2 separate regions of the Homo sapiens genome follow, and region 2 is linked to region 1. Evidence: fine-mapped expression QTL. A gene starts in region 1. The other region holds a variant in brackets. All regions are shown on one strand. Distances are between the middles of the regions.

Region 1 (16,752 bases):
TGCAAGGTGGGATGGGGAGCCTGAGAATAAAGTATATGGGAAGCACAGTTTTCTTTCCCGGAAGTCTTTTTTCCTTTCAAAGAACAAGGACAGATACCCATTTTTAGAGCCATTGTTAACTGTCTTCCTATGGTGACCAGAACTAAGTTGAAGATATGAACATTATTTTACAGACACTGAAGGTCAAAGAGGACTAACTGGATTTGGGGGTATTGGCATAAAATTTCTAAAATATGCATATGTAAATATGCATGTACATGCAAACATGTTATATATAGCCATATATAGGTATGAATTTTACATGCATATACACGCACATATTTTCTAGCTCTGTCTGCTGAAAGGGCTTAGAAACAGACATGCCATGGCTGGGCGCTCAGGCCTGTAATCCCAGCACTTTGGGAGGCCAAGGTGGGTGGATCACTTGAAGTCAGGGGTTCAACACCAGCTGGACCAACATGGTGAAACCCTGTCTCTACTAAAAACACAAAAATTAGCTGGGTGTGGTGTCAAGTGCCTGTAGTCCCAGCTACTTGGGAGGCTGAGACAGGACAATTGCTTGAACCTGGAAGGCAGAGGTTGCAGTGAGCTAAGACAGTGCCACTGCACTCCAGCCTGGGTCACAGAGTGAGACTCTGTCTCAAAAAAAAAAAAAAGAAGAAACAGATACCCCATGACAATGTGTTCACATAGTATCCGGGTTTTACTCTTTAATACCATTTCCCACTAACAGGATAGTGCCACTACACTCCAGCCTGGGTCAGAGTGAGACTCTCAAAAAAAAAAAAAAGAAGAAACAGATACCCCATGACAATGTGGACACATAGTATCCAGGTTTTACTCTTTAACAGGGGCATTTCCCACTAACAGGAATCCCCAGAGAAATTACCAATTTCAGGGCTGGGGAAGGATACATACGGGATAAGACTAAAAGCATCTTGCTATGCTCAAGAGTAAAGAAGTACATTAAAAAAAGTTAATGAAGGTATACAGGACACAGAGGACAGTGTAAAGGGGTTCCTAATTGGCCAAATATGGGACAATTAAGTATCAAATTAGTTAAGTACAGTAATGAATTATATGCTACAAGAAAAAAAGTAAAAGAGGATAGTAATCAGTACTCTATTCTTCCAAAATATCAATGTCATAAAAGAGAGACTATGGAAATATTTCAGATTAAAGGAGGCCAAAGAAACATGACAACTAAATGCAACACCTGATATGATCCTAGACTGGGATCCTATACTGCAGGAAAAGGCTACTGAAGGTATGACTCAATCCATTGACAAAATAGTATACAGATGGTAGATTTAAGTATTACATCAAGGACAAATTTTCTGAAGATGATAGCTATATTATAGTCGCATAAGGGTCATATATCCTATTCTTAAGGTATATACACTGAAGAATTTTAAAGGGCCATGATGTATGCAACTTATTCTCAAATGGTTTAAAGTGAGTGCACGCACACGTGTGTATGTATGTAGAGAGAGACAGCACATGAACAAATATGATAAAGCAAATAGAGTAAAATGTTAATAGGTAAATATGGGTAAAAGGAATATGAATGTTCTTTGTACTATTTTTAATCTTCCAACACTTCAGTGAGTTTAAAATTATTTCCAAATAAAACGTTAAAGGCTGGGCATGGTGGCATGCGCCTGTAATCCCAACTACTTGGGAGGCTGAGTCAGGATGACCTGAGTCCAGCAGTGCAAAGCTGCAGTGAGCTACGAATGCAACATTAAACACTGGCCTAGGCAACAGAGTGAGACCCCATCTCTAAAAGAGCAAAGTTAAAAAAAAGAGAAAGAAAGCAGTTGAACTCCTTATCCCTTTTTCTCTCAGCACCAGTAAGATGAGAAAGCAGTGTTCTCTACCTTACCTGCAATGTGCTGGGTTATCTGTTCCTTCTCATTATCTTCCAGCTCTTCCCAGCCTTCCAGCTCTGTGAGGTCCTCGATTTTTTTTGTGGTGGCCCGGGCCCGCTCTAGTTTCTCAAACATGCATTTAATGTGGTACCACTCTTTCATATCACCCCCAGACTCTGAGAAGGGATTGGGCACCACTTTGCCAATTCGGCATACGCCCTTCACAATCTTTTCCTTGCATTTTTTGCAGCCAGCTGTGCCACGCTTGGCATAGTCCACACAGAACCGTTGCTCAGCCATCTCACAGGGGCCACTGCAGAGTCCCACATGCAACCCTGGCAAGAAAACAAGGTAGGTGGCACGTGATCTTAGATGGCTTCCCTGGAATGATAGAACAGGCTTTCTTCTCAGGAAGAGGGGATGTCCATGAAGCAGATCTGTTTCTGACCACTGGCTGAATTGTCTTACATCACGCCAGTGATGTTTTCGGAATAGGCACAGTTCTTTTCGGCTGAGTGCACGGAGGGTTTGTGGAAAGAAGATCTTGAAAGCCAAAGACATATAGCTGTACGAAAGAGTAGGAGGCCAAAAAAAAAAAAAAAAGATATAAACAAGGAGATAGGCTTCCAATTTTCCAAAGGCCAGCGTCTTATATAGTCCATGATGACTAATCAAACACTTTCCAAAGTATTACATTCATAGTCTACTCTACAGCATGAAAGAGTTCTGATACAGGAAAAGCCAGCTCGCAGCAGGATGTTCAATTATCTAATGCACACATGTACATCTAGTACATCACAATGAAGAAAATCCAAATAACATAAAAGCTCTTTTTAGGCCATCAGCAACATATGATACTCATAATGGATGATGACCTTTAAGTATTACAAGATCCTGAACTTTCTTTTTTTTTTTTTTTGAGGCGGAGTTTCACTTTAATTGCCCAGGCTGGAGTACATTGGCGCGATCTTGGCTCACCGCAACCTCCTCCTCTCGGGTTCAAGCGATTCTCCTGCCTCAGCCTCCCTAGTAGCTGGGATTACAGGCATGCGCCACCACGCCCGGCTAACTTTTTTGTATTTTTAATGGAGACGGGGTTTCTTCTTGTTGGTCAGGCTAGTCTCCAACTCCCGACCTCAGGTGATTCGCCCGCCTCGGCCTCCCAAAGTGCTGGGATTACAGACATGAGCCACCGTGCCTGGCCCTGAAGTTTCGTTTTAATCACCAGTAAAAATTACATTATGTTCATGAAGTTTTTATTGTGAAGTTTAACACATATGCCATCCTCAGAAATCAAGCCACTATATAGATTTGGAATTGAGTTAGAATCCCTATATTGAGAGACAACTAAGCAGAGCCTGGAATCAGACTGCCTGAGTTCAAATCCTAACTCAGCCACTTACCAGCTGTATAACCTTGATGGGTTTCTTACCTCTGTTCCTGAGCTTCCTTATCTGTAAAATGTGGCTAATTATGGGGCCTAACTTAAAGAGCTGTTCTAAGAGTAAAACCCTTAAAACAGTTGGGCACACAGCAAGAGCTCTCATTAACGTCAGCTCCTATTATGATCGGTGACGTCGTTATCTTTCAAGAAGAGGCTTCCGATGTGCAATTAACCTGTTTATCATTCAGCAACTTGAATCAGAGAATGCTGAAGTCACTGGGCAGCAAGACTCACAGGAACTCATAAATCAATCCAAATGGAAAAAGATTATATCAGCATCTTCTTATATTCATGTTTTCTAAAGCATTTTATAGTCCTAGTTTTAAGTATACTGGAATTATGTTCAGTCTGCACACGCTGTGAAGCAAAATTGCTGTCACGTTATAATAAAAAGCAGGCTTTGCTTACTGTAGTGCAACATGATGTGAAGGAAAGCTGGTGGACCTGGAATAAGGGATGGGAGTGCAAGTCTGACTGTACAGTTTACTGACTGTTACCTCGGAGAAAACTCTTAATTTATCTGCATCTGTTTTCTTATTTCTAAAGCAGGGTAAATAATACCTACCTCACAGGGTAGTTGGGAAAATTACAAGGAATCCATGAATGCGCTGGTTGTGGGGGAGGGAGGCTGTTCTGAGCTCTCTAAAAATGTATACAAAATGTACATTCGATAAAAATGCACGGTTTTTTGGAGGAGGTCTATCACTTTCGTGATATTCACAAAGGGCTATATAACTCCCAAAGTTTAAGAACCACAGAGGTGAGGTAAGTGGAAGTACGGCAGACCCATAAAAGGAGGTCAGAACAAGTGAGTTTCAACACTTTTCCTAGAAGATCAATTTACAGAGCAACCTCTAGGGCCCCAATAATGAAAGGAGTGGACTTGAGGGAGGCTCGGGAGGCGCTGGGCCACGAGGAGGCACAATGCAGCTTTGAGGAAACCCGTCTGTCCCTCGTTCCGCACCCTCACAACTGCCGCAGCCCAGGGGCCCGAGAAGGAAATCGCTGAGGCCTGGCCGCCGCCGCTTTTCTCGAAGGGCTTCCCGCGCCGCTGTCGGAGAGTGGCGGGGACAGTGGGGTCGGCGGCGTAGGCCGCGACCCCCGGCGAGGCAGAAAGGAGCGCTCCTCCACCGGGTCCGGGACGCAGGCGGGAAGTGATCAAGGCTCCCTGAGTCCCACCCGAGCGCTCCCGGTTCAGCGCAGGAGGACGCACGCCGGGCCAGGGTACGAGAAGGCCCCGTGGGTTCCACAGGGAACACAGCCCGGGCGCCGGCCTCCCCGCCTCACGCGGCCCCGTGGGGGTCCCGGGGAGCCGCGAGCCTCCCCCTGGGCTCCCGGGAGGGCCGCCACGTCACGGAGGGTGTGCCCCGGGGCTCCGCAGGCGGGCGGGGGAGGAGCCGGGGGGCTGGCTCCCCGGCCGCGCCGAGCTCCTCGCCCCGGGCCCGCTGCCTTCCCCACGCCGGGCCCCGCCGCGCCGTGCCGCGCCGCGTAGCCCCTCACCTGCCTCTCCGGCTCCGGCGCTCACCGTAGGCCTCGGAACTTGCTCATTACAGGCCGCGGGCAGCCCACGACGGTTGGAGCGCCTGTCTCTTTAAATCCGGGTCCTAGAGCGGGAGGCAGCGCGCAGGCGCAAGAGCCAAGGCCGCGGCCACGCGACCGGTCCCCGCCCCCGTCTGCCACGTGGGTCGTAGTTGCATTCTGCCTGCCCTGTGATGTTTGGGAGTAGTTTTCAACCTGCAATCGCGGCCCGGGAAGCGGAGGTGGGGGGACGTGGCGGCTCCTCGGAACGCAGCCTGGCCTGAACTTCCGAGGCTCCCCTTGATTTTCTCATACTGTTAGAGAGGATCTGTTTTTAAAGATATTGGTGGAGAAACTATATTGTAATGAGGTCGGGGAAGGCAAAGATCGCGTCAATCTATTTTTTAAATATAATCCCTCTGTTTGTGTCCCGCAGACTCCCTAGTAAATAGTTTGTATTCAGTAGCTTTCATGGAATTGAGACGAGGCACTAAACAGCAGATAGATATAAAATGTAAAGGAGTGATGGAGGAGAAACTCCTTGATTGTATATCATTCAAAGTGTATTATCTCAAATCTGAAGCCAGCTCTTTGAGAGTTGGGATGGCGATTTTTACAAATGTAGCAGCCTGAGGGTAAGTGACCTCTTCAGAGTCTAGGAAGAGCAAACAACTGGGCCTTGTTAGGTAAGCAAAGAACAGGTTCCCGAGAGAATTCTGTGCTGTGTGATGAAGAGTGTCGTCTTTACTCTGTAGAGGACGGAGAGCCATGAAGAGTCTTAGGGAATACTGCTGAAGCTGGGTGGGGAGAGACTGAGGCAAGGGAACAAATCAGAAGGCTCTCATAGTGACCCATGTGGGAGATGATTCAGCTAGTTAGGGTGGAGAGTAAAGTGCGTTTTTGAAGATCATTTAGAATTTAAATGATCTTCTAGATAAAGTGCTCGTTTATGGATAAAATAATAATAATTTGAGTGAGCAGAAACATAATGGTACCATCAACTGAAATAGAAAATAGAGAGGAAGAGGAGGTGTTAGGGTTAGAAAGATGAGTTTTGTATTGGATACATTAAGTTTGTTTGACTAAGTTTAACTGCGATTCTACTGTTTGGAGGGGAGTAAAGCCTGCTTTTAATGCGCAGCAGAATGAACCAGGGCTTTGGTTCAACCAGGCAATTGGAAGGTCGCTGGAGACTCACGTCCTAGCTATGATAATTGAGTGATCTTGAGCACGTCTCTACAACTACATTTGCTACATTTTTTTAAGTTTCCTCAACCGTATCTGTCTTTTTCCAATGCTGTAATCACTAGCCACACGTGACTATTGAGCACTTGAATGTTGCATGGAATTGAGATGTGCTATAAGTGAAGAAAATACACACCAAAAAATTCATACTAAAAAAAGTAAAATATCTCATTAATAATATGTACCACATAATGACATTTAGGCCAACAATGGACCAAATATATGAGGGTGGTCCCATAAGATTATAATGGAGCTGAAAAATCCCTATCATATAGTGACAGCACATTACTCATGTGTTTGTGGAGATGCTGGTGGAAACGAACCTACTCCATTGCCAGTTGTATAAAAGCATAGCACACACTATTATGTACAGTATATAAAACTTTATAATGATAATAAAGGACGATGTTGCTGGTTTATATATTTAGTATACTATACCTTTTATTGTCATTAAATTAAATTAATTAATTTAGTTATTTTTGAGACAGAGTCTCGCTGTGTCGCCCAGGCTGGAGTGCAGTGCCACGATCTTGGCTCACTGCAACCTCTGCCTCCCAGGTTCAAGTGATTCTCCTGCCTCAGCCTCCCAAGTAGCTGGGATTACAGGCCCTTGCCACCACAATGGGCTAATAATTTTTTTTTTTTTTTTTTGCGACAGAGTTTTGTTCTTGTCGCCCAGGCTGGAGTGCAGTGGCAGGATTTTGGCTCACTGCAACCTCTGCCTCCTAGGTTCAAGCAATTCTCCTCCCTCAGCCTCCTGAGTAGCTGGAATTACAGGCACCCGCCACCACGCCTGGCTAATTTTTGTATTTTTAGTAGAGACGGGGTTTCACGATGTTGGCCAGGCTGGTCTCAAACTCTTGACCTCAAGTGATCCGCCTGCCTCGGCCTCCCAAAGTGCTGAGATGACAGGCATGAAACACTATGCCCAGCCTTATTGTTATTTTAGAGTATACTACTACTTATTGAAAAAAAAAAAGCTAACTGTAAAACAGCATCAGGTAGGTCCTTTAGGAGGTATTCCAGAAGAAGGCATTGTTATCAGAGGAGATGACAGCTCCACGTGTGACATTGCCCCTGAAGGCCTTCCAGTAGGACAAGATGTAGAGGTGGAGGATGGTGATATTGATGATCCTGACCCTCTGTAGGCTTACTAGGCTAATGTGTGTGTTTCTGTCTTGTTAACAAAAAAGTTTTAAAAGTAAAAGGAATTTTTTTTAATAGGAAAAAGCTTATAGAATAAGGATATAAAGCAAAAATATTGGCTGGGCACAGTGGCTCACATCTCTAATCCTAGCACTTTGGGAGGCTGAGGCAGAAGGAGTTCAAAACCAGCCTAGGCAACATATTTATAAGAAATAAAAATATTTATTTAAAAAAAGAAAAATATTTTTATACAACTGTGCTGTTTATGTGTGTGGTTTTATTAATTTATTTTTTTGAGATGGAGTTTCGCTCTTGTCACCCAGGCTGGAGTGCAATGGCACAATCTCAGTCCACTGCATCCTCTGCCTCCCAGGTTCAAGTGATCCTCCTGCCTCAGCCTCACAAGTAGCTGGGATGACAGGTGCCCACCACCACGCCTGGATAATTTTTTTATATTGTTAGTAGAGACGGGGTTTCTCCATGTTGGTCAGGCTGGTCTCAAACTCCCAACCTCAGGTGATCCACCCACCTTGGACCATTTTCTTTTATACCTTTGTGTGTGTGTGTGTGTGTGTGTGTGTGTGTGTGTGTGTGTGTGTGTGTGCTGTGCTTTGCCTATGTTTAGAGACACAAATACTTACCATTGTGTTATAGTTTCCTACAGTATTCAGTATAGTACATGCTGTATGGGTTTATAGCCTAGGAGCAATAGCCTATACCATATAGCTTAGGTATATAGTCAGCCATATCATTTAGGTTTTGTAAGTACACTATGATATTCCCATCACAAAATCACTTTACGATGCATTTCTCAGAAGGTATCCTGTTGTTAAACAACTCACGACTATCCTATCTTTATGTTAATTATTTATTGAAATGATTTTTTTGGATATGTTATGTCAAATAAAATATAGTAAAGTTCATCTCACCTGTTTATTTTTACTTTTTTGAAAATGTGGTGACTAGAAAATATAAAACTGCACGTTTGGCTTACACTACATTTCTGTTAGAGTACACTGCCTTAGATTTCAAACCTACATGTAGAGGGTGGCATCTGTGCTATATGCTCAGTGCCTAGAACAGTGCTGGGCACATAGTAGATACTCAACAAATATCTGTGAATAATGAATGAAACTCATGAGTGAATGGAATGAATGAATAAAACTCTGGAAGTGATAAGATCCCTTAGAAGGATGTTTATTATATCATAACAATATTTGATATAAACTTGCAAAGACTTAGGCTGTAAATGATTTTTGCTTGATGAGAGCTCCCTGAACCCCCTGATTCTCTCTGATTCAGGTCCCCTGCTGTGAAATAGAACTAGGTACACAAGAAATGGAACTAGGTACGAAAGCCGGCAGTTGCACTTCTTTAGAAAAGTGGGAACTGGCTGGGTGTGGTGGCTCACGCCTGTAATCCCAGCACTTTGGGAGGCCGAGATGGGCGGATCACAAGGTCAGGAGTTTGAGACCAGTCTGACCAACATGGTGAAAGCCCATCTCTACTAAAAATACAAAAATCAGCCAGGTGGTGGCGTGCACCTGTAATCCTAGCTACTCAGGAGGCTGAGGCAGAAGAATCGCTTGTACCTGGGAGGCAGAGGTTGCAATGAGCCGAGATCGCGCCACTGCACTCCAGCCTGGGAGACAGAGCGAGACTCTGTCTCAAAAAAAAAAAAGAAAAGTGGGAACTACTCTACCAAGGAGAATGAGGCAAAGTGTGGTAGGAAGAGCAGGGCTTTGGATTTGCACAGACAGGTTTGAATTATGTTCCACTACCAGCTGTCTGTAACTTTCATCTATTTTCTTAACTTTCCGGGTCTCAGTTTTCACCGTGAAATGGGGATAGTTTTACATTTAGGTCCCGGATCAATTTTGAGTTTATTTCTGTGAAGGGTGTAAGATCTATCTAGATTCAATTTTTGCCATATGGATCCCTTGTTGATCTAACACCATTTCTGAAAAGACTGTTTTCTCATTTGTATTGCTTTTGGTCATTTGTCAAAGATCATTGACTATATTTATGTGAATCTGTCTGTGGGCTGTGTATTCTGGTCCATTGGTCTATTTGTGTGTTCTTTGACCAGTACCACACTGTCTTGATTCCTGTAGCTTTATAGCAAGTCTCAACTTAGATAATGTCAGTCCTCCAACTTTGTTCTCTTCCTCCAATATTGTGTTGGCTATTCTGAATCTTTTGCTTTTTCACATAAACTTTAGAATCAGTTTCTAAAGCCAATATCCACAAACTAAGTTACTGGAATTTTGATTGGGATTGTATTGAATATACAGATTACATTGGAAAGAACTGACATCTTGACAATATTGAGTATTTGTATCCATGAAGATGGAATATTTATTGATTAGTTTGTCTTTGATTTCTTTTATTAGAGTTTTGTAGTTTTCCTCATACACCTCTTGTACATATTGTATTAGATTTATGCTTAAGTATTTCATTTTTGGGTTGGTGGTGAAATGAGGATAAAAATAACTCTTGGGATTGTAGGTGCCAATTAAATGAGATGACTGATGTCAGCTTGCAAACTGCTTGGCACTTAGAGGCATTTCAATAAATGTACATTCTCCTGCACCACCCAGCCTGGATACATTCATACCACTACAGAGTGTAATCACTCAGTCATTGATTGGTCAGTCAAGTATTTATTGAGTGCCTACTCTGCATCAGGCACAATTCCAGGAGTGTAATACAGTAGCGAAACAAAGCAGACAAAAATCCAGCCCTCATGGAGCAAACTAGTGTGGGAGATCAATAACAAACAGGGAAGTAAAATGTATAAGGTGTAAGAAGTCAGTGGGTGCCATGGAGAAGAAGAAAGCAGAGGAGGGTGGGACATGCGGGGTAGGGGCAGGGTGGCAGTTTTAAATAGAGGTCAGAAAGGCCTCACTGACAAGTAACAACTGAGAAAAGATTTGAAGAAATGAGTCAGCCTCATGCAGATTGAGGGTAGATGGAGCATTAGATAAAGGCTTGGAGGCCAAAAATGTGACTGTCATTTAGGACAATAGCAAGGAGATCCATGTGGCTAGAGCAGCTGGAGTTAAGGTTGAGAAGAGCAAGGAGACAGATCCTGTAGGGTCTTGTAAGACATTGCAAAGACATTGGCTTTTATTCCAGGTGAGAAGGGAAGCTAGTGGATTGTATTGAGCCGAGAAGTCATGTGATCTAACTTAAGCTTTAACAGGATCACTATCACTCTGGTTGTTGTGTAGAGAAGTTGGGAGATGAGTCAGGTAGCTATGTTAATAATCTAGGGGAGAGATGAAGGCAGCTTGGGTGGTAACAGTGATAGTAAGAAATAACTGAGGCTTATAGACCCCTAGGGGAACTGTGGATGGGCTCAGGGGTGTCCTTGAATTTCCTGAAATTTTATATAAACATTTGTGTGCATGGGCATTTTTGGTGAAGAGCTTTTATGGAGTCTCAAAGCAGTTTTATGATCCAAACAAGAACTAAGCTGGTGGTGAATAATCAGGATATCTCATGCTTGTTCCTAGCTATTCAAAGTCCTCAATTAAGTTCTTTCCACAGATGTTGACTGTAAATCCTCTACGGCATCTATCCTGTTTGTGAGCCTCTTAAGAGTTTTGACTGTCTCCTTTAAGTCTGTTCTAACCCTGACTTCCAGTTAAGACTCATCAGAATTGTTACAAAGAAAAAGAGCCATAAGGAAATGGGTAGATTCTGTTCATGTTCTATGCTACTAACTGTGGTAGTTTGGGAGCCACAGGCAAGAATTGGGAAAAGGCTTGACACTGTCCTAGAGATAGTGAGGGGCACTTGTGAGGCTAGTCTGTTCTCAGTGGGTTCCCTTTTTTAATAAGCTGTGGTCTATGAATCACATAAACCCCAGCAGCAAGAGCTGATTTTATGGGTTGGTTTGCTTAATAGTCACACAATTCAAATAAGTTGTAAAAAACGGTGCTGGTATTTGCCAGGATAAATATTTAAAAGGGAATAGCTGTAGAAAGATATAATAATTCAAATCAGCTCATCGTTCTTCATTCTCAATAAAGGCTGCGGAGGTTGGTTCTTAACCAGGGGGGTTTCTTGGCCTCTCCTTTGAATATGTTGTGCTACAGCTGTCAGGTTGAGAAAGGGCAGAGCTGAGAGAAGTCATACTTGCCTTTGGGAGTAGCTGATCCATGACAGAGAGGTTCTGGGACAGGGTTAAGAAGAGGGTTGAGGTCACAGATGTGGTGTGAGGAAAACTCAAAGTTGCCACCATCTTCCTTGAGCTCCTGGGTTGGGTTTTCTAGCGTGAAGTCCTGGTGGTTATGTTTTTCAGGAGACAAGTTAATAATTTTCAAAGGAAAATATATTTTATGAAGAGATGAGCCTATTTGGGAGGTAAACTCCCTTTACTGGGAGTTTAAAGTTCTCCTTTACTGGGCTCTGGCCTGGTTGATAAGGTAGTTTTGATGATAGTTGGTTTTTTAGCTTTGGTGCAGTGGCAGAGGTTGAAGACTGGGCTGAACACTTTACCTCTCTTGTTCCTCCTGCCATTCCTGTATATTGGGAGAGCCTCTACCCCTTTTCTTTCCTTCTCTAGATGTGCCACTTTAGCCCTCTTGAAGCATTCCTGACCACCCATGCTGCCACCTCCCCTGCCTACAGCTCCTGTCTTGATCTTGGTGATGGATCCTCTTGGGAGGGTCCTTAGTACCCAGACATAGCCTAATACTCCAAGAGGATAAAACTAAGGCTCAGGGAGTAAACTGACCAGGTAGATATCACAGCTAATTGGTGGCAAAGTGGGACTCAGACCCTAGACTTTTGATTAGCCCTCTTTACACTGCGTATAACCAGTAGTTTAATATTTTGGTCCTGCCCAATTTCTTTTCTTTTTTTTCTTTTTTTTTTTTGGAGTTGCGGTCTTGCTGGAGTGCAGTGGTGCCATCTCGACTCACTGCAACCACCACTTCCCAGGCTCAAGCGATCCTCCCACCTCAGTCTCCCAAGTACCTGGGACCCACAGGTGCATGCCACCAAAACTGACTTTTTTATATTTTTGGTAGAGATGCGGTTTCACCATATTGCCTTGGCTGGTTTGGAACTCCTGAGCTCAGGTGATCCATCTGCTTCAGCCTCTCAAAGTGCTGGGAGTGCACCACCACACCCGGCTAATTTTTATGTAGAGATGGCATCTCGCCATGTTGCCCAGGCTGGTCTTGAACTCCTGGCTTCAAGTGATTCTCCCACCTCAGCCTCCCAAAGTGCTGACATTACAGGCGTGAACCACTGCACCTGGCCCCTGCCCAGTTTCTTATATACTATTTATAACACAACCAGATTGTAATTTCCTTGAAGATCAGGGCCACTTTTTCACTCATTTATTCAATAAGTATTGTTTGAGTGTCTGCTTTGTGCAGGGCATTGAGTGAGTAAGATAAACTCAGACTCTGCCTTCAGGGAGAGGTTGATATATACCTTTGAATTTCTTGCAGACCCTTGTACCGTAGTGTACACTAAAGAAGTACTCAGTGAACATTGATTATTGTTAATAAGTATTATTGAGGGCTTCTTATAAGCCAGTGCTAAGCAATTTGTGTGTATGTATTTAATCTTCACAGTAAACTTGTGAGGCAGGATCTGTTATCAACAGATGAATAGGTTGACAGGTTATGTTATTGCTTCAAGCATTGGTTTTTGCCACTGCAGAACTACGTGAAGAACTTGTTTAACATACTGTTTCCGATGCCCCAACCTAGACCCACTGACCTAGAATCTCCTTGAGTAGGTCAGCATAGGGCATTGGATATAGTTGGGTTAGGGAACCATTGTCTTTGAAATGGGCCCATTTGGACAGACTAGGTGGGACAGCCCTTCATCCAGAACCTGCACACTGATGTCTGATGCTGCAAATGTTAGCCAGGTGTCCTCCTGCCCAAGTATCTATCTAAAACCTAAACTCTCTTTAACTTGGGTTTTAGCTGTGTTCTGTACTTTTCTATTTCTTAAAGAAATTTTTGGGTAATGGGTACAGGATGTTTGTTATATTATTTTCTGTACTTCCCTGTGTGCTTCTATTTCCTAAACTTTTTGAAAATTAAAATAAAAAGACATCAACCAAAAGAATATATCAGTTTCTGCTATGAGAGGTTTTCAAGTAGCTTCAAGGACTATTTGGAGGAGTAAAATTGAGTCTTTTTCTTGAGTGAATCTTGTGTTCTAAAATAGGAGGGCTTCTCTAGTTTTTCTTCCCTCTTATTTCGAGGAGTATAGAAGCTGTGGGCTGAAGAGCCAATCCATAACTGGAAAGAAAATCCAGATTAAAAGAAGGAATTACTCATTTTTGTCCATCGTCTCTATCTTTTCCCAGTTGAGGATGGTAAGTCTTTCCAAGAAACGAATGTGCTTTTTTCTCTTCCTTCCCACGCTGGATTTCTGCTTTCAGGCTGGAGTCTAAATTGCTTAGGCTCACATGCAAGGTTCTTTGTAAATCTAGTCCCAGTGGACTTCCTGTCCTATTTCCACCACATCCTTCCATGTACTTGAGGCGACAGTTTCCCCAGCACTGCATACTTTCCATGTCTCTGTGCCACTGTTACCTTAGTCCACAATACTCATTCCCTCCTTCACTGCTTGGCACAGTCTTTCTCATCCTTCAATGCTGAGTGCAAATTTTGCCTCCTCAGAAGCCTTTCTGAACCCTCCTCCCTGCAGTCAGTTGCTCCTCCAACACACTGCCCACTCAACACTTTGCACAAACATATTTTATCATATTATATTATAGTTAGTTGTAAACAGACCAGTAGATCTCAACTGGGGGCTACTCTTAGCTAACACGATGAGGTGGTGGGGTTGTGACAGTGCCACTGGCATTTAGTGGATAGAGGTCAGGGATGCTGCCAAACATCCTATGATGCACGGGACAGACCCCAGCCCAAATAATTATCCAGTCCCAAATGTCAATAGTGTAGAGGGAAGCCTGGTACGGTGGCTCATGCCTGTAATCCCAGCACTTTGGGAGGCTGAGACAGGAGGATCACTTGAGTACAGAAGTTCAAGACCAGCCGTGGTAACAGGGAGACACTGTCCCTACCAAAAAAAGGGGGAAAAATAGCTGAGTGTGGTGGCTCGTGCCTATAGTCCTAGCTACTCAGGAAGCTAAGGCAGGAGGATCACTTGAGCCTGGGAGTTCAAGGCTGAGATGAGCTATGATCACACCACTGCACTCCAGCCTGGGCGTCAGAGCGAGACCTTGTCTCGGAAAAACAACCCACCAACCAACCAACCAAACAAAAATAGTGATGGGGTTGAAAAGCCCTGATCTAGACTGAGATCCCTTTGTTCAGGGCCACATTTTATTCATCTTTGAATCCCTAGGAACTCTCATAGAGTAGGTTCTCAATAAATGTCACATATACAAATGAGAGGGAGTGAATGGAAGCAAGTGGGTCTAAGCCACCTTGGGAAATAACTCTACTTAATCCAGTGCCTCTTCTACTTCTAAATTATCCCCAAAAGAGCAAAAGCATTTTCCCTCAGATACCCTCTGCGGATGGTCACATGGAGGAAGGGCAGTCTCCTAGAATACGGAAACCATACAGTACAATAATAACAGGCAACACTTAGTGAGTGCTTACTGTATGGCTCAGGTGCTATACTAAAAGCATTGACATGCGTTTAACTCATTTAATCTTAGGAGACAGGAACTATTACTCTCCTTGGATTATATTAATAGTTGAGGAAACTAAGAGTGAAGTGACTTGCCCAAGGTCACCTTGTCAAAAAGCGGTGGATCACAGGGCACTTTGTAACTGTTGTTTCCCATTGGGATTTCTGAGAACTGAAATCATCATTCTTCCCCCCATCAGAGACCACTAAGGAGTACACACTTTATTGCTGGCGAAATAGGGTAAGGCAGAGTATTGTGGGAGTGTGTGGAGAAAATCTGAGGATAACACCCTGCAACAAAGAGGACTTCCCAGCCTAGCAAGGGATTGTGAAAAGCACTGGACTGCTTTAACCTTGACAGCAAACTTCCCTCATCTTAATTCTTGCTATTTTGGGGATCCTGTCATGTTTTGCACATTTTATTATTAAATATAGAAAATATATTGGACTAGGAAATCAAGTTACATCTAGTCTTAGTGATTAACTTACTGAGTGACCTTGGACAAGTCATTAGACATCTAAAATGAAGTGATAATAGTTGTTTCACTTTTGGTGGGGGGTGGTGAGATAAAAAAAAAACCAATCTCATGCTACCGATAAAAACATACCCGAGACTGGGCAATTTACGAAAGAAAGAGGTTTAACGGACTTACAGTTCCACATGGCTGGGGAGGCCTCGCAATCATGGTGGAAGACAAGGAGGAGCAAGTCATGTCTTATGTAAACAGCAGCAGGCAAAGAGACAGAACTTGTGTAGAGGAACTCCTCTCTTTAAAACCATCAGATCTCCTGAGACTTATTCAGTATCACGAGAATAGCACAGGAAAGACTTGCCCCCTTGATTCAGTTACCTCCCACTGGGTGCCTCCCACAACACGTGGGAATTCAAGATGAGATTTGGGTGGGGACACAGCCAAACCATATCAGTTGGTGAGTAAAAAATACTCTATGCAAGTATATATTAATATTAAATAATAATGATGCAGTGTAATAGTGGGAAGAACAAGGGCTTTGGGATTGTTGTCTTGAGTAAGTTGTTTCACTTCAGAGCCTCAGCTTCCTCATCTGTAAAATGAAGATTTCATATACTTTACAGGGTTGTGAGGATGTGACATGGTGTATACCAAACCCTAGCATAGTGCCACCCATATGGTAGGTATCCAGTCAATGGTAGCTATTATTAATAACCCGATCAGCTGGCTTGATTGATACTACCTTGTAACTACACTTGGCAAAACAACAAGCAAACAAACAATACACAACAATGAAAACAACAAACACTACCATCATCAACCACTTCGTGTGGTCCTCCTCATTCCCCTAAAGATGACTCTTGGCTTCCCAGTGTGCTTGAAGCTCAACAAATGCTGCTAGCAAAATGGAGGTGCAGCCAGATGGACCTGGTTTCCTCCTCTGAGAGACTGGGGGTACTTACAGTGAAGGATGGCTGAGTGCATAGATGCACTCTGAAAGGTTTTGACTGCCAAGAGACAAGGGGTGAGCCAAATGAAATGGTGAGGGCTGAGCATGGCTGGGGGTTAGTGAGTGCTTGTTGGCTTTGTGATCTTGCCCTGCCACTGGGTAACTTTCCTCCTTCTGGTATCAAGGCTGCCCAAGAGCTCCCACTGACATATGGAGGTCCCTCTTTGCCTATTTGGTGCCATGAGGAATTCTTGTCAGCTAACTGTGAAGGTGGCCCATTGCACCCTAGAGGCTGTTGTGTATACCTCCTTGCCCTGTTGTGTGCTCAGAATAGGTAAAGGCTTCATGTGCCAGAGAAGTAAGGAAGACACATAGTTGGAAAAAAGTACCTCAGCCCTCTGTTCAAGCTGCTAACTGGCTTTTATGCTGGTTCTGATTTCTGTAGTCAGCTTGATCTTTCTGCCA
Region 2 (16,830 bases), 94 kb before region 1:
TTCAGTGTTTCCCAACTCTGAAATGTTGACACAGTTAGAGACCAGAAGCTTGAGGAATAGTGACTGTGAGCCCACCAATTAATGGGGGACATTAAAATGATAGTAGTTCTGCAGCTTCACCTCTAGATGATCTTCATCAGATTCTTAAATTGCATTTACTTGATAAAATCCTCACCACAGCACATCAACATGTCTCTTGCACTACCCAAAAGCAGTATTAAAAAGGAAAATACGTTGACAATTACTATCTAATTAGGTTTTTATTTGAGATACAGGCTATCTATAGCTCTGTTGTTATTTGTGGAAATGCTAGCAAAAAAACAGACTGAAATCTTTCTCCTTATGTTGTTGTTTTAGAAACAACACAAACAGGTTGGGCGGTGGCTCACGCCTGTAATCCCAGCACTTTGGGAGGCTGAGGTGGGTGGATCACTTGGGTTCAGGAGTTCAAGACCAGCCTGGCCAACAGGGTGAAACCCTCGTCTCTACTAAAAATACAAAAATTTGCCAGGCATGGTGGTGCGTGCCTGTAATCCCAGGAACACAAACATAAAAATAAGCCTCTAGTTTTATTTGGGAGGGATCGATATACCATATTCGAGTTCTGAATATCGTGTCAGGAAAGCAGTTTTTGATGCCACTAGTTAAATGTTTGTGTGTTTTGATATACCGTTGGTCTTCCCAACCAAACATCACTTTTTTTTTTTTTTTTTGAAACAGTGTCTCACTCTGTCACCCAGGCTGGAGTTCAGTGGTGCCATCTTGGCTCACTGCAACCTCTGCCTCCTGGGTTCACGTGATTCTCCCATCTTAGCCTCCTGAGTAGCTGGGACCACAGGCGTGTGCCACCACATCCAGCTAATTTTTGTATTTTTTGTAGAGACGGGGTTTCATCATGTTGGCCAGGCTGGTGTCGAACTCCTGACCTAAAGCGATCTGTCTGCCTCGGCCTCCCAAAGTGTTGGGATAAGTGCTGGGATTGCAGATGTGAGCCTCTGCACCCAGCCTATCCCTTTTTAAGATGGGGAAAAATGGAAATTTGCTGTTATGTATTACACATATTATGAAAGCATATTAGAATGTATTTTCTGGGCCGGGCCTGGTGGCTCATGCCTGTAATTCTGGCACTTTGGGAGGCCAAGGCAGGCAGATCACTGGAGCCCAGGAGATCAAGACCAGCCTGGGCAACATAGCAAAACCTTGTCTCCAAAAAATACAAAAAATTAGCTAGATGTGGTGTTGTGCACCTGCAGTCTCAGCTACTCAGGAGTCTGAGTTGGGAGGATTGCTTGAGTCCAGGAGTTTGAGGTTATAATGAACTATGGTTGCACAACTGTACTCTAGTGTGGACAACAGAGTGAGACCCTGTCTCCAGAAAAAAAATAATAAAAATCAAATAACTTCTTTATTGGAGATTACATACAAATCGTGACCTTTTTTTTTATTCCTGAAGTCTTTAGTAAGGTTATATGTTTACTGCAATAGATCTTAAATTTTACTATGATCAAAAATCTCCTAGGTGCTTGTAAAAAATAAAGATTCCTGGTTCCTAGCCCAGCCCTACAGAATCAAAGTGTTTGGGATAGAGATGTGGGATTCTGATGTAGTTTATCTGTAGACCCCACTTGGAGAAAGAATTTATGTGAGAAAGAACCACACATAAAAAAAAAGATTGAGAAATGCTATTATTTTGCAGAGGAGGAATTTAAAGCACAGAAAAGTCAAGAGGCTCAGACTTAACTAGGATATCCAGCTAGTTATTTGACTCTTGCAGACCAGAAGCTAGGTTGGCTGACTACTGTGGATTTGTGCTCTTTCCATTAGATTATAGTCTGGGGTGTGCCATCTTTTGGCCTCCCTGGGCCACATTGGAAGAAGAAGAATTGTCTTGGGCCACACATAAAATACACTAACACTAATGATAGCTGATGAAAGTTTATGAATTTGTGTTGGGCCCGGAGGCCATGGGTTGATCAAGCTTGGATTATGCCAGGGTGCCTCCTTGCTGGTTTATCTGATTGCCTTTAAATCAGAAGCTATAAGATAATGAGGGCAAAGGTACTTTGATTCCTTCAGAACAATAATGACTGAACTGGCACTTCATAGTGTGAAAAGTTTGTGCTTCTTAAACTATCTGTGGTGAAGGACCAGCTTTGTAAGGGTTTCCCTTCACCCCTAATCTGTTGCCAGCCAATAATTGTGTAAAGTACAAGAAAAGGGAATCACCAGAAAAATCATGCACTTGGATGTCACAGCAATGTCAAGCACTAGAAAAGTTTCTAAATGCTTACTGTGATTTTCTGTGTTTTATCTTGACGTGAATGGGCCTCCAGCAGTCTGACACACACACTTTGAATAGCATTGTTCTAAGTGGTTCTTAGGACATCTTAAGAACTTGATATCAGAGGTCCTTGATCATTTTCTTCCTCATGCCACCTATAACTGAAGCTACCATCTGAGAGCTCCCATTCCTACCTGGGGAGAGAAGTTTCATGACTTGGTGGTTTCCTAGGTCAGAACCAAAGTTGATAATACTTAGGGACTAGTTAAGGAACTATATAGTTAATTTATTTAATTATTATAAATAATTTATATATATTTAATATATATATAATTTATTTTAATATATTTTATTTTTATTTTTAAAAACCAGAACATTTATTGTGTTACTAATTGTTGAAATTCTTAAGATGAACTGGATGCTGCAGCAGCTGCCCTCTTGGGTTTAGGTGGTGTTCTTTCACAGAATCCATGCCCGAATTTGCTGTATACAATTTTTAAGTGCCTCATTTGACCAGTTCCAGTGGTAGTTTGTCTTTTAGCCTTGGCACTCCAGTTATACTTCCTCTTGCGCTTGGCAGCATAGCCACATTTGCCACAGGTCGACTTCTGAAGGTGGTACGTCCTGTCACGTCTTATTGTGATGCTTTCCAAACGATGATGTTCCCTTCATCATCTGGCTTCTGTTACTATTATTATTATTATTATTATTATTATTATTATTATTATTATTTGAGACGGAGTTTTGTTCTTGTTGCCCAGGCTGGAGTGCAATCGTGCGATCTTGGCTCACCGCAACCTCCGCCTCCCGGGTTCAAGCAATTCTCCTGCCTCAGCCTCCCAAGTAGCTGGGATTATAGGCATGCATCACCACACCCGGCTAATTTTGTATTTTTAGTAGATGGGGTTTCTCCATGTTGGTCAGGCTGGTCTTGAACTCCCGACCTCAGGTGATCTGCCCACCTTGGCTTCCCAAAGTGCTACAATTATAGGCATGAATCACCACGCCCGGCGTTTTTACTATTATTTTTAAAATTACTGCTCCTTGCAGAGCAGGGCTACCCTATAGGCAATGTGCCCACAGTAGCCAACCTTTAATATATTTAAGAGTAAATTGAGGCCGGGCATGGTGGCTCATGCCTGTAATCTCAACACTTTTGGAGGCCTGAGGCGGGCGGATCACTTGAGGTCAGGAATTCGAGACCAGCCTGGCCAATATGGTGAAACTCCATCTCTACTAAAAATACAAAAATTAGCCAGGTGTGGTGGCACGCGCCTGTAGTCCCAGCTATTCGAGAGGCTGAGGCAGGAGAATCCCTTGAACATGGGAGGTGGAGATTGCAGTGAGCCAAGATCATGCCACTGCCCTCCAGCCTGGGAGACAGAGCAAGACTCCGTCTCAAAAAAAAAAAAAAAAAAAAAAAAAGAATAAATTGATAGAATTTGCATTGGGTGCTTGTATTGGGAGGCATATTCCCCTCTTTTTGACTAAATACTGGAAAGGAGTTTCTAACTTCTTGGCCTGTAACTTAACTCACAGTTAAGATGCTTAAAGATGGGAGACAGAAAATAAAATTTAGGGGTGTGCAATTTCTTCGAGACGCTTTTGTGTTTGCTTTTTAGAAGCCTTTTGTGAATAGTCTACGAGGATGCATTATTAGTTTTTGTGGTTATAATGTCAAAATTAGTGTTGATTTGGAGCAGGCAGGGAAATCTCTCCATGCATGCTTTTCATCCTGGTTTAATTGCTTAGTTGGATGAAATGTCAAACTTGATAGATTATTGGAGCTGTTATTTTGGTAGTTAAACAATAATGAAACTGTTTGAATGTTTTTGGAGAACACTGCTTCCTGTGTCTGGACTTTGCACTGGAGAAAGTTTCAATTGTTCACAAGCAATACTGGTTAGAAAATGCAGCTTCTGTGGCTCCTAACACAGCTGTCTAAATTACTAGCTATATGGGGGCCTTTGGACAAGCACTGCTTAACACTTTTGGAAACAATTTGTTTCTGATTCCAAAAATGTCGATGGTCATTCCCTGAATACTTGAGAAAACTAGAAATGGGAAAAAGGTATTGCATGTGTCTAGGTTATGCCAGTCAAGTGTTTTTTCTTTAAGCATCTCTAGAACAAATTTACCTTTTTAGCTAAGGATAAGAGGTTTATGGAAATGTTGTAGCAGCCCCCTGGGCCTTTCTTTCCTCCTTGATGACTGTTCAGCAGGGTAGCATGTTGTCAGCTTGTGTGCCAGCTTACAGAGGGCTTGCGTTATTATAACCTTGATTAGGAAAGAGGGATGGGGAACAGGAGTGAGAGGACAGATGTTTTTGAAAGTCCCTCTGCCTGCTATGTGAAATCTTGAATTTTCACTTTGAACTTCACTGTTGTTTGGTGACAGATGTTATAAAACTGTCTTTACAAACAATCCCCTTTCCTATTGAAATTGTATGTTGGCCACAGGAGCTAGGGAAGCATTGGGCATGTTCAGCAGGATTTATTTCACTCATTCCACTGTGTCAGATGATACTTTTTCTGAATGAAATTGTATGCATTCTTCAGTGGGAGTTAGGGGAAGGCTTATTCTTGTCTAAAAGTATGGGAGAATTTGTGTAAGACTGATCAAAAGACTAGCACTTCTTTTGCTATGTGATACTTCTCTTTGTGCCATATTTTACCTGTAGGAAAATTACCAACAGTTATTATGTGCTCTCCAGGTGCCAGGGACTTTGCTGTATTAACAAGTTTAATCCTCCTAACAATCCTATGAGGTGTGTAGGTGTTATCTGTGTTCCACAAATGTGAAAATGCCGCACAGAGAAATTAAAGAGGGGGCCCAAAGCCTCACAGTGTTGGAACCCAAGTATTCCAGCTGTCAAGGTTGAGCTGTCAACTACTGGGTGACAGCTGCCTCACACTCCGTCAGGATGATTACCTTTTGAATAAGTCTTTACAAATATGTCGGCTGCAGAAGTAACCAGTCCAGAATGAATGAACTCTCACCGCAGTTTTAGCTCAGCAAGCAGTGCCTGCTATCAGAAACATCCAAAAACCACAGCAATTAGACAAATAAATTGTGAAAGATGTGGTTTCCAGGTAAGATATGTGACAGGCTTCTTACCGCAAATAGTTTTTCTTACAAAAGGAGAAAGACTGGTGGGAGAGATGGTGGAAAAAATGAAAACAATGTGTCTTTTATGATTGTCTGGGCCCATCCTCACAGGACTTCATATGTAGTGAAGGCAGAATATTTACCTCAAGCCCAGATGACCAACTTTTACTTTCTACACTGACTCAGGCTTCTTCCTAAAAATGGTGTTTCACCATTTATTCCACTAACATCACTTTTTAATTCTTAAAATAAAAAAGAATAGTTTTATTCATAAAACTACATGGGCCTACTTGTGTGGAATGTGATTTAAAAATGATGTTAGCAATACTTGTTACTTATTTTACTAGTTTTAGCTTTGTTAGTGCTGAAGGATGTTTTATAGTTTATTCTAAAATTGTAAACGTTTTTGATGTGTAAGCCAGTCACCCTTAAAAGCACATTTGGCTAAATAAATAAAGCATTAGGTTAGAGAAGAGTTCACTGGTGGTTATTTTTTGTTTTGTGTGTGTGTGTGTGTGTGTGCGTGTGTGTCTGTGTGTGGGGTCTTCCTGTTTGTCAATAGGCCTTCCCAATTAATTGAATTCTACATAAGATACATAGATGTTAGTGCCCCATAGGGCCTCATCTTGTAAGTGATGTTAGTGGAGTAAATGGTGATATACCATTTTCAGTAAGAAGCCTGAGTCAGTGTAGAAAGTAAAAGTTGGTCATCTGGGCTTGAGGCAAATATTCTGCCTTCACTACATATGAAGTCCTGTGAGGATGGGCCAGAGAATCATAGAAGAAACATTGTTTTCATTTTTTCCACCATCTCTCCCACCAGTCTTTCTTCTTTTATAAGAAAAACTATTTGCGGTAAGAAGCCTGTCACATCTTACCTGGAAACCACATCTTTCACAACTTATTTGTCTAATTGCTGTGGTTTTTGGATGTTTCTGATAGCAGGCACTGTCTGCTGAGCTAAAATTGCAGTGAGAGTTCATTCATTCTGGACTAGTTACTTCTGCAGCCTTCTGGCCCATTACTCATGGCTTTGGTGAGGCTCGATAAAAATATTGTGATGGATAGGGCACAGGTAGTGCCTGAATGTATTTCAGATAGTTGGGCCAACAACCAATCTATGCTTAAATAATCATCTCTCCTGCATAGTAGAGACTGCAAAATAGTATGAAACATGCTATACTTTATAAACATTTTGCCTTTTTTAGCTCCCCGTAGTGGCTGGACAGTTGACTGAATAATTTCATGTTTTTTTTTTTTGAGACGGAGTTTCACTCTTGTTGCCCAAGCTGGAGTGAAATGGCACAATCTCAGCTCACTGCAACCTCTGCCTCCTGGGTTCAAGTGATTCTCCTGCCTCAGCCTCTTGAGTAGCTGAGATTACAGATGCACGCTACCATGCCTGGCTAATTTTGTATTTTGAGTAGAGACGGAGTTTCTCCATGTTGGTCAGGCTGGTCTCGAACTCTCCACCTCAGGTGATCCACCTGCCTCGGCCTCCCAAAGTGCTGGGATTACAGGCGTGAGCCACCACGCCCGACCACTTTTTTTTTTTTATACTTTATTTTTAGGTAATT[A/G]TAGATTCACAGGAAGTTGCAAAAACACTACACAGTTCCCATGTACCCGTCACCCGTTTTTCTCCCATTGGTTATGTCTCATTTAACCATAGTACAATATCAACACCAGGAAACTGACATGGTGCTCTGTGTGTGTGTGCATGTGTGTGTGTGTGTGTGTAGTTTTCTGCTGTTTTATCACATGTATGGATTTGTGTAACTGTTCTACCACCACAAAGATCCCCCTTGTGCTACTCCTTTATTATCATGCATATCCGTTTTCCCTACTGTCCTAATCTCTGGAAACCAGTAATCTGTTCGGTGTCTCTATAATTTTGTCATTTCAGAAATATTATGGAAATGGAATCATAACAGTATGTGACCCAATATGTGACCTTTTAAGACTGGGTTTTTTGTTTTTTACTTTTATATGCATAGAACAATTGGAACTTTTTTTTTTTTTTTTTGAGACAGTGTCTGGCTCTGTTGCCCAGGCTGGAGTGCAGTGGCGCAATCTCAGCTTACTGCAACCTCTGCCTCTCTAGCTCAAGCCATCCTCCCACTTCAGCCTCCTGAGTAACTGAGACTACAGGTGTGCACCACCACACCCAGCTAATTTTTGTATTTTTTTTATAGACAGGGTTTCACCATGTTGCCCAGGCTGGTCTTGAACTCCTGAGCTCAAGCGATTTGTCCGCCTCAGCCTCCCAAAATGCTGGTATTACAGGTGTGAGCCACTACACCCAGCCTCGAATGTATTTTTTGTAGAGATAGGTCTCACTGTGTTTCCCAGGCTGGTCTTGAACCCGGCATTTTTCACTTAGTGTCACACCATCCATCCAAGTTATTGTGTGGCAGCAATAGTTTGTTCCTTTTATCTCTGAGTAGTATTCCATGGTGTGTATATACCACAGGCTGTTTAACTATTCACCGGAAGGGCATTTTAGTTGTTACCAGTTTGGGGCTATTACAGATGAAGCCATAATGAACATTTGTGTACAGGTGATTGTATGGACACAAGTTTTAGTTTCTTTGGGTTAAGCATCCAGGAATGAAATTGCTGGTTCTTAAGGTAAGTAAGTGTATGTTCAGTTTTCCAAAGAAATTGCTAAACTTTTTTTTTTTTTGGACAGTGTCTCACTCACTCTATCACCCAGGCTGGAGTGCAATGGTGCGATCTCAGCTCACTGCAACCTCTGCCTCCTGGGTTCAAGCAAGTCTCCTGCCTCAGCCTCCCAAGTAGCTGGGACTACAGGTGTGCACCACCACTACCAGACAAATTTTGTATTTTTAGTAGAGACAGGGTTTCACCATGTTGGCCAGGCTGGTCTTGAACTCCTGACCTCAAGTGATCTGCCCACGATGTCCTCCCAAAGTGCTGGCATGACAGGGGTGAGCCACCGCACCGGGCCAAAATTGCTAAATTCTTTTCCAGAGTTGCTGTACCATTTTACAGTCTCACCAGCAGTGTATGAGATCCAGTTTCTCTGCATCCTCACCAGCATTTGATATTGTCATCATTTTTAAATTTTTGTTTTTTTTTTTTTTTTGAGTTGGAGTCTTGCTCTGTAGCCTAGGCTGGAGTGCAGTGGCATAATCTTGGCTCACTGCAGCCTCTGCCTCCCAGGTTCAAGCAATTCTCCTGCCTCACCCTCTCAAGTAGCTGGGACTACAGGCATGTGCCACCATGCCTGGCTAATTTTTTGTATTTTTAGTAGAGACTGGGTTTCGCCCTGTTGGCCAGGCTGGTCTCGAACTCCTGGCCTCAAGCAATTTACCTGCCGTGGCCTCCCAAAGTGCTGCAAATACAGGCATGGGCCACCGTGCCTGGCCACCATTTTAAATTTTAGCTATTCTAATAGGTGTTATATCTGGTTTTTAAGTTCATCAGATTACTTAGTAAAACTGATTCGACTGACAAAGATAGAAGATTTTTGAGTTGTATTTTTAGCTCTCTGAATGAATCTGCCTCCATACAGTGTCACAGTGGTCTGCTGACTGGCTTTTTAGCACCCCTGCCATGGTTTCCTTGACAGCAAGACCCTAGACAAACTCTTTTTACCCAGCAATAGATAGCACAGCACTCCCAGTACAGTACTGCCCATAGACAAATAATACAATTTCAAAACTGTGAATTTCTTGTTAATTTTTTATACTTTTGCCTCCATGACTGTAGCTTTAAATGTACTCAAAATTTGGCTTCCAAAGGCCCTAAAAACTTTTTCAAATTGTTTTGGTTTATGTTATCAAATGGTCTTAGGTACTTTATTTCTAATACGATTAACTTAAACTGCTCACACCTATAATCTCAGCACTTTGGGAGGTTGAGGCAGGCGGATTGCTTGAGCCTAGGTGTTTGAGATCAGTCTGGGAACCATATTGAGACCCCATCTCTACAAATAATAAAAGAATTAGCCAGGCATGGTGGCATGCACCAGTGATCTCAGCTACTCGTGAGGCTGAGGTGGGAGATTGCTTGAGCCAGGGTGGTCAAGGCTGCAGTGAGCTGTGATCACACCACCGCACTCCAGCCTCGGTGACAGAGTGAGAACTGTCTCAGAAAAACAAAACAAAACCCAGCTAAAATAGCATAAAGTAGAAGTTAGACCCCCATCCCTACTAGGAATAACTGCTATTAAATGGTTTTAGTATATGTGTGCGTGCTCGCTCGCTCTTTTGCACGTGCGCGTGCTCTCCCTCTCTCGGTGTGTATGTATATATATGTATGTGTGTATCTATCATATATAATTAAATATATATTCCCCCCTGCTGTTCACAGTGCTTTTTTTCAAATGGGTAATGTATTATGGAGCATTTTTTAATGTGAATTTTTTAAAGCATTTAGGACCTGGGATGGAGCTTTGGGTTCCTTTCTCCAACCCTTGTCTGTTCTGTTATAAAAGGGATGAGAGAGGTACCTTTGAAAGACCTAAAGAAAATACGTTTTCTTCCTTGTTACATGGGTTTCAGTTGAAATAAGGTTTTAGCTTTATTTGTGAGTAAATCAGTAGAATACTGGATGTTAGGATGCATCTCTCCACTTTATTATAAATAATGCAAGGCTGATTTTATGATGTGATCTCTTGCAGAACTTTGGGGGAAGTGAGAACTGTGAGCACAATAATCTTCAGAGAATGCACAGTCCTTTGGGTATTTGTCTACTCATCAGCTGCTTAGTCAGATGGAGTGTTTTCCTAAGTACTACTGAAGTACACAGTTCAGTCTTTATTTTGAAATCTCTCCTTCTGCCTTCTCTCCCTCTTCCATTACTTTGATTACCTTGATGGGACATTCAAGCTGTGCAGTCGTATCCTTTTATTTCTATAGCCTGCAGAAACCAGGTTGAAGATTAACTGTAGGTGAACAGGTAATCTTATCTACTTGGCTAGAAATCACCCTTCAAGATGAAACACGTGTTGACAAAGGCCCCCTAGACTTGGGGACATGAACAAAGGTAAGTTAATCTTGGGGCATTATTAGTGGAAACCAGGGTAGACGTTTAGGAAGTTTGACTTATTGGAGGCAGGGCATGTGTGTCAGGGAGACAGAGCATGTGAGTGTGTGTATTAGGAGAAGAGACGAATTCAGAGGTATACAGAAAAGAAGAATGATGAATTCAGGCAATCTTCAGAGTTGAATTACAGAATCTTTTTTCTGAGAGTATGGTTACTGCGGCAAGGTAGTAATAGGACATGAGCCTGCTAAGTCACTTCATTATGAAGCTATTAGAATTTAGGTGATGGAGTTTGATGACAGGGGTCTTTTCCCTGCCCTTCTACTGTATTAGCTGCTCAGGGAAAAAAAACAGAAAACTAAGAAATAGCCTTATATAGAAAATTATACCCATCAAATGGTTCCAAGGTTTCTGTTGCTGGGTTTCTGAAATGAGCTGCCCAAGATAGCAGTTTGGTCATGTTGCTGACTTCTTGCTGACTTCCTTTCTCCTCCTCCTCCTCCATCGGGTCCTCAGGCTGGGTCCTGACCCCTCTGGATTCTTTCTTTTCCTGCATGCTTGCTACTTTTTCAATTACTGACATACAGGAACCTAGTATTTCATTGTGCCTGAGGTAGGCAGTTGCTAGCCTCTTGATATTGGATACCTTTTCTGAGCTATGAAGTATTACACCATAGTGGATAATAAAGTACTCACAATTGCATTATAGAATAGATTCTGGTAACTGCACCAGTGGGGACAGACTGGGTTAGCATGCCCTCACACAACTGGGGGGTTGTTTTGCAGCAAAGTGCTGTGAAGCAGGTTGAGCCTCATGCAGTGCCAGTTCCTGTATCTAAATGTGAAAGTGGCTTGTTAAAGATTAAAGGGACTGCCTGGTCCTTCTGGCCCCAAGATGGAATGATCTCTGCCATGGCGACAGCCTCTATCTCCCAGGAGAGGCCATTTTATACAGCACATTTGTGCTTCCAAATGTTACTGTAAGCCTGCACTGGCTGATACTCTGGCGATAAGTTGACATTTGGGCACTCTCAAGACATATGAGCTATATAGCATCCCATGGTTTGAATTTCTGGGCAAAATTGGCTCATCAGGAAGTCAAAAGCCTCTACTTTCAACCTGTTCCTTTGGGTTTTCTCCTTTGTTTTATTTGACTATTCTGTTGAGTCAAATGAACTTTAATTTTTAGCCATAAAAATTCCATTAAGCCCCTTGTATCATATCCAGGTGTGAAAATGTCTCAGTATAACAAGACTGTGGGTGACAGGTGAAATCCTTAATGGTAGTTAGGATAATTGTCTCTGAAGGCTTGAAGAAAATAATGGTCCAACCAACAAAGTGAATACAGTTTGTATTTTTTGTGGTTCTTGTGGGTGAGCGGACTTATGTTTAGGACCTGCTCAGTGTGACTACTGTTCAGCTTGGAGGTCTTTGAAAAAACTTTTTTTCATTTTACTCTAAACAGTGCTTAGGGAACATAGCTGTGTCCTTTTTCTCAAAACATGATCCAAGGCCCATCTGTATCAGAATTGCTTGGAAGGCCGGGCGCAGTGGCTCACACCTATAATCCCAGCACTTTGGGAGGCTGAGACGGGCGGATCACTTGAGGCCAGGAGTTCAAGACCAGCCTGGCCAACATGGCGAAACTCCGTCTCTACTAAAAATACAAAAATTAGCCAGGCCTGGTGGTGCATAGTAATCCCACCTACTTGAGAGGCTGAGGCAGGAGAATCGCTTGAACCCGGAGGTGGAGGTTGCAGTGAGCCGAGAAATTGTGCCACTGCACTCCAACCTGGGCGACAGAGCGAGACTCTGTCTCAAAAAAAAAAAAAAAAAAGGCTTGGAAGAGAGAGATACTTATTAAAAATTCAGTTTTGGCCAGGCATGGTGACTCACGTCTGTAATTCTAGCACTTTGGGAGGCTGAGGCAGGTGGATCACCTGAGGTCAGGAGTTCGAGACCAGCCTGGCCAACATGGCAAAACTCTGTCTCTACTTAAAATACAAAAATTAGCCAGACATGGTGGCATACGCCTATAATCCTAGCTACTTGGGAGGCTGAGGAAGGAGAATTGCTTGAACCCAGGAGGTGGAGGTTGCAGTGAGCTGAGATTGCACCATTGCACTCCAGCCTGTGCGATGAGAGTGAGATTCCGTCTCAAAAAAAAAAAAAAAAAATTCAGTTTCTGGGGCCTCCCTCCATGTCTGCTAATTCAGAGTGTCTGAGGGACTGGGATGAGAAATGTTCATTTTCAATAAGCACCCCTGTTGATTCTTAAGTACCCCTAGAGTTAATTGTTGAGTATCATAAAGTTTACTTCATTTTTCATGTTTAATTTCTGTGATTTATTAGATGATAAATATTTGGTTGCCATCATATTGTTTTTCTTAAATACTATGTTCTATAGTTAAAAAAAAAAAAAGGCTGTGAGGTCACTGAACACCAAGATTAGAATTTGGCAATCATTAATTATCAACAAGGTGAGACAGGCACTGATTCCTGGAAATGTGCATTTATCCATTCACCGACTTCTCAGTTAGAAAAAGGATGTGGACACAAGTAAGATTAATTTTGTTAAAAACAAGAAATGTGCAGTATCATTTAGGATGCTGGGGGTAGGGAAGTAGATAAAAGGGAGATGTTGAGAGGAAAGAGTGTGAAGAGAGAGTAAAGCAGTTTGTAAGTGATACAAACTTTAAAATTTTAACTGAATTTTAAACTACCAAGTCATATTTGAATATATGCTTGTTGTAAAAAAATTCATGATTTTTGGGGGGTAATTTGGATAAAGCTAAACATAGCTATTTGATCTTTATTCCCATTACAGTGCTCTCCCTGCTGTGTGCATCCTCCCAGATCTTCTGTATGTATTTGGTAATTTTCTGTGGATTTGGAAGACTACAGAATCCTGAGAAATGGATATTTTAATTTCTCTTTTGAAACCTGCTTATTGTTTATAATGTCAAGATCTATTGCAGAAAAGAAAGTAAATCTGGGATGTCAATGACATCACATATGTCTGTTCAAATGAAACAATGGGCACATACACATATGCACACTCATTAAATATCTGTTGAGACCACCCTATTAAAAAAAGCATAAATAGTTTTGGGTGTTAAGTTACTTGAGTTTTAAAATAACGTATTTTCTGTTTTTGTTGTTTTTTGTTTTGAGATGGAGTCTCCTTCTGTCGCCTGGGCTGGATTGCAGTGGCGCAATCTCGGCTCTGCAACCTCTGTCTCCTGGGTTCAAGTGATTCTCCTGCCCCAGCCTCTAGAGTAGCTGGGGTTAGAGGTGTATGCCACCATGCCTGGCTAATTTTAAAATAATGTATTGAAAGAACTTAGTCAGAAAGCCACAGTTATTATTTCTCCCATAGCCTCATATTCTCATAATTTTCATGTAACCTCATAAATCCTCAAGTGCCTGAAACCACTAGTTCAAACGAGTACCTTTTTAAGCTCTAAAATGTAATCCTCAACCTTTCCACTTTAAAAGGAAGAACTAGGATGGAGTGTGGCTATAATTTGGGGCAGTTGGTTAAAACTGTATCAGAGTCCCAAAGAGGGGAATGATAAGCTGCAGCAGCTCTGTTCACTTGCTCAATGGTGTTTCTCTTAGTCAACTTAGGAGTTCCATGCCTTTGGCCTTCAGGCTGCTCTTTATATAGTTCGTATCTGTCTCCTGGGCATAGTACTGTCTGGATTTTCTCTTTCTTTTTTTTTTTTTTTTTTTGAGACGAAGTTTTGCTCTGTTGTTGCCCAGGCTGGAGTGCAATGGCACAATCTTGGCTGACTGCAACCTCTGCCTCCCGGGTTCAAGCGATTCTCCTGCCTCAGCCTCCCGAGTAGCTGGGATTACAGGCATGTGCCACCACACCTGGCTAATTTTGTATTTTTAGTAGAGATGGGGGTTTCTCCATGTTGGTTAGGCTAGTCTTGAACTCCCGACCTCAGGTGATCCGCCCACCTCGGCCTTCCAAAGTGCTGCAATTATAGGCGTGAACCGCTGTGCCCGGCCCTCTTATTTAAAGTTCGCAAATACAGAACAGGTCAGGAGCTTTTCTAATCATTTTTTTTTTTTCTGAAGGAGGTTCCATATTTGTCTGTACCTTGAGAGTTGTTTCATACTAGAATTTGTAACTTATCATCAACTACAGAAATTTTTTTTAAAGTGTGGTTGAAGAGATAATGGTTGTCAGCTGCTATAAAGATGTGTTTATCATTCAGAAAGGACTAATTAACATGTACTATAGGGAAACTTCTTTAAACAAAGCCATTTTCTGAAAGGAAAACACTGAAGGGGAGGAAATAAAACAGGGAACATTTTATAATACCTTATCAAAGCTCAGCGTGGCTATCCTACTGGAATAATGTAATTAAGGAGAATTAAGTGAGTTGGATAAATAACTTTTTAAAACTAGCCCCTTGAATAGAAAATTAAGTAGTATAGTTTTTAAACTCAAATTCTGTCTGCACGTACATTTTAATTAACCTAACATTATTGAATGACAAGCTGAGTTGGCAGCTACATCCAGAGTTCATGCCATGTGAGACCTACCTTAAAGGATGAACGAAGCTGGGTGCAGAGGCCTCAAATGCCCTGCTAAGAAATAGCTGATGGCCTTGGGGAACTGTCATACATTTTAAGCAGGAAACAGAAGGATCTAATAGGAACTTTAGTTTCTCTCTTGTCAAATTAAAGCACACAAAAAGCAAGGACTTGATCTTTTTTTTTTTTTTTTGTATAACACCAATGTCAATTCTAGCCTGTCAGGGCAAATTCAGTAATTAATAGCTGTTGATGAGCCAGTCATTCTAGATTGATTTTTTAAATAAGCAGGCTAATAAATGAGAATTGACATAAATTTAGGGATGTCTCTTTTCAGAGCAAGTGTTAAGGTGATTTTCATAGTCTTCTGTATTCCCTATGCATCCAGTAGGTGTGATGGTAAATGATTTGGCTTTAGCATAGAGAATGTGGCAGCTGATTAAAAAAAAAAAATTCCAGTGCATCTATCTTAATGAGAGAACTTGAGTTGTCTGAAGAAATAGAGAGGTCAGAGGAGGCCTAGTGGGAAAAAAGAACAATGAGCCTGGTTAGAACTGACAAAAATTCACCCTAATGATTTGACTGGCTAATGATGACTGGGCAAGTTCCCTGAGTCCACTGACCCAGATGTTCTAATTTGTAAATGCAAAGTGACTTATTTATCAGCCTCCTGGGGAAATCTTCAGAGCTGTGAACCTGCTATGTTCAGTAATCTTGCTGGCCCCAGCCCCAGCCTGTTCTCAGATGAAATTTTAGAAACTGGCCACTGGAACTTTTTGGGTAAGGGCTCTGGAGGTGGCCAAGTTACCAGTAGTGGGGGAATGAGGTTTACCTGCCCCCAGTAATCAGCACTTGATTTAAAACAATCAGTGAGCTGCCTCTTCTTTCCTAGGTTGCAGTTGACTGCGGTTGGTTCAGGCTGAGTTGTTTGGGAAGTACAAATTTTGCCCAGCGTGAGTCAGCACTGCCCTGGGTAAACTCCCTGCTGTGTTGCAATCTTGCTTACCAAAGATACATCCCCAGGCGGCACCATTCACTTCACATGAAAGCCGCTGCTCTTGGTTCCTGAGATGATCTCATCTGAACATGGCTCCAGCGACCTCAGCCACAGGAACTAGAGACAGCTTGCTTTCTGTCGTGGCAATGTTTTGAAACTGGCAAAATCAGGTAACCTCAAACTGTTTTCTTAAGTTTCATTAGCTAGATGAAGCTGCATTAGAAACTGGGAAAATCCTGTCTTCAGAAGTGAGTCAGGTTTTTTTTTTTTTTTTTTTTTTTTTTTTTTTTGAGACGGAGTTTCACTCTTGTTGCCCAAGCTGGAGTGCAATGGTGTGATCTCGGCTCACTGCAACCTTCACCTCCCGGGTTCAAGTGATTCTCCTGCCTCAGCCTCCCAAGTAGCTGGGATTATAGATGTGCGCCACCATGCCCGGCTAATTTTGTATTTTTAGTAGAGACAGGGTTTTGCTGTGTTGGTCAGTCTGGTTTCGAACTCCCAAGCTCAGGTGATCCACCCTCCTCAGCCTCCCAAAGTGCTGGAATTATAGGCATGAGCCACGGCCCCCGGCCAGAAGTTTTCTTTCATTTGAGTTCTGGATGTGGAGTTAGGTCCAATTAAATCACTGATTATATAAATCTTAGAAAAGTAAAACGTTAGGTTTACAGCTTTATCCGTCATTTGCTCTTGTATTTTGTTTTTTTGTGTGTATCTTGTGAGAAACACTTTAGTCAAACTAAGCCATTGTTAAAGGAAAAGAAGTGAAGGCATTTGGTTGCCTTCCTAATAACTAAATATTGAGTTGTGGAGAACACTGTCTTATCAGTGAGTTTGTTCCCATATTCCTTTCTGAATTAATAGGAAGAACCTCCCTCATCTCTAA

Which allele goes with the higher level. Alleles are on the strand shown, and positions count from the first base shown. SD is a standard deviation of normalised expression in the study named.
With allele G in place of A in region 2, the expression in stomach of the gene that starts at base 4,926 in region 1 is lower (moderate effect, 0.42 SD a copy in GTEx).

What was found. PIP is the estimated chance that this variant, and not a neighbour inherited with it, causes the effect.
Region 2: its variant is fine-mapped to the expression of LIG3 in stomach (GTEx, PIP 0.90).

What each region holds. Positions count from the first base shown.
Region 1 is chr17:34,968,686-34,985,437 of GRCh38, reverse strand. LIG3 (DNA ligase 3) reads right to left here and starts at 4,926. Exons shown (of 20, transcript NM_013975.4): 1 at 4,816-4,926; 2 at 1,886-2,436. The coding sequence starts at 2,432. RefSeq lists a silencer at 4,472-4,901.
Region 2 is chr17:35,062,863-35,079,692 of GRCh38, reverse strand. All of the region lies in intron 5 of RAD51L3-RFFL (RAD51L3-RFFL readthrough), which reads left to right. It overlaps RFFL (ring finger and FYVE like domain containing E3 ubiquitin protein ligase), which reads left to right and starts at 15,986. Exons shown (of 7, transcript NM_001017368.2): 1 at 15,986-16,117. It also overlaps the pseudogene RPL37P22. RefSeq lists enhancers at 15,805-15,904, 15,354-16,149, 15,236-16,435 and a silencer at 16,145-16,214. The variant A/G (reference allele first, on the strand shown) is at 6,967.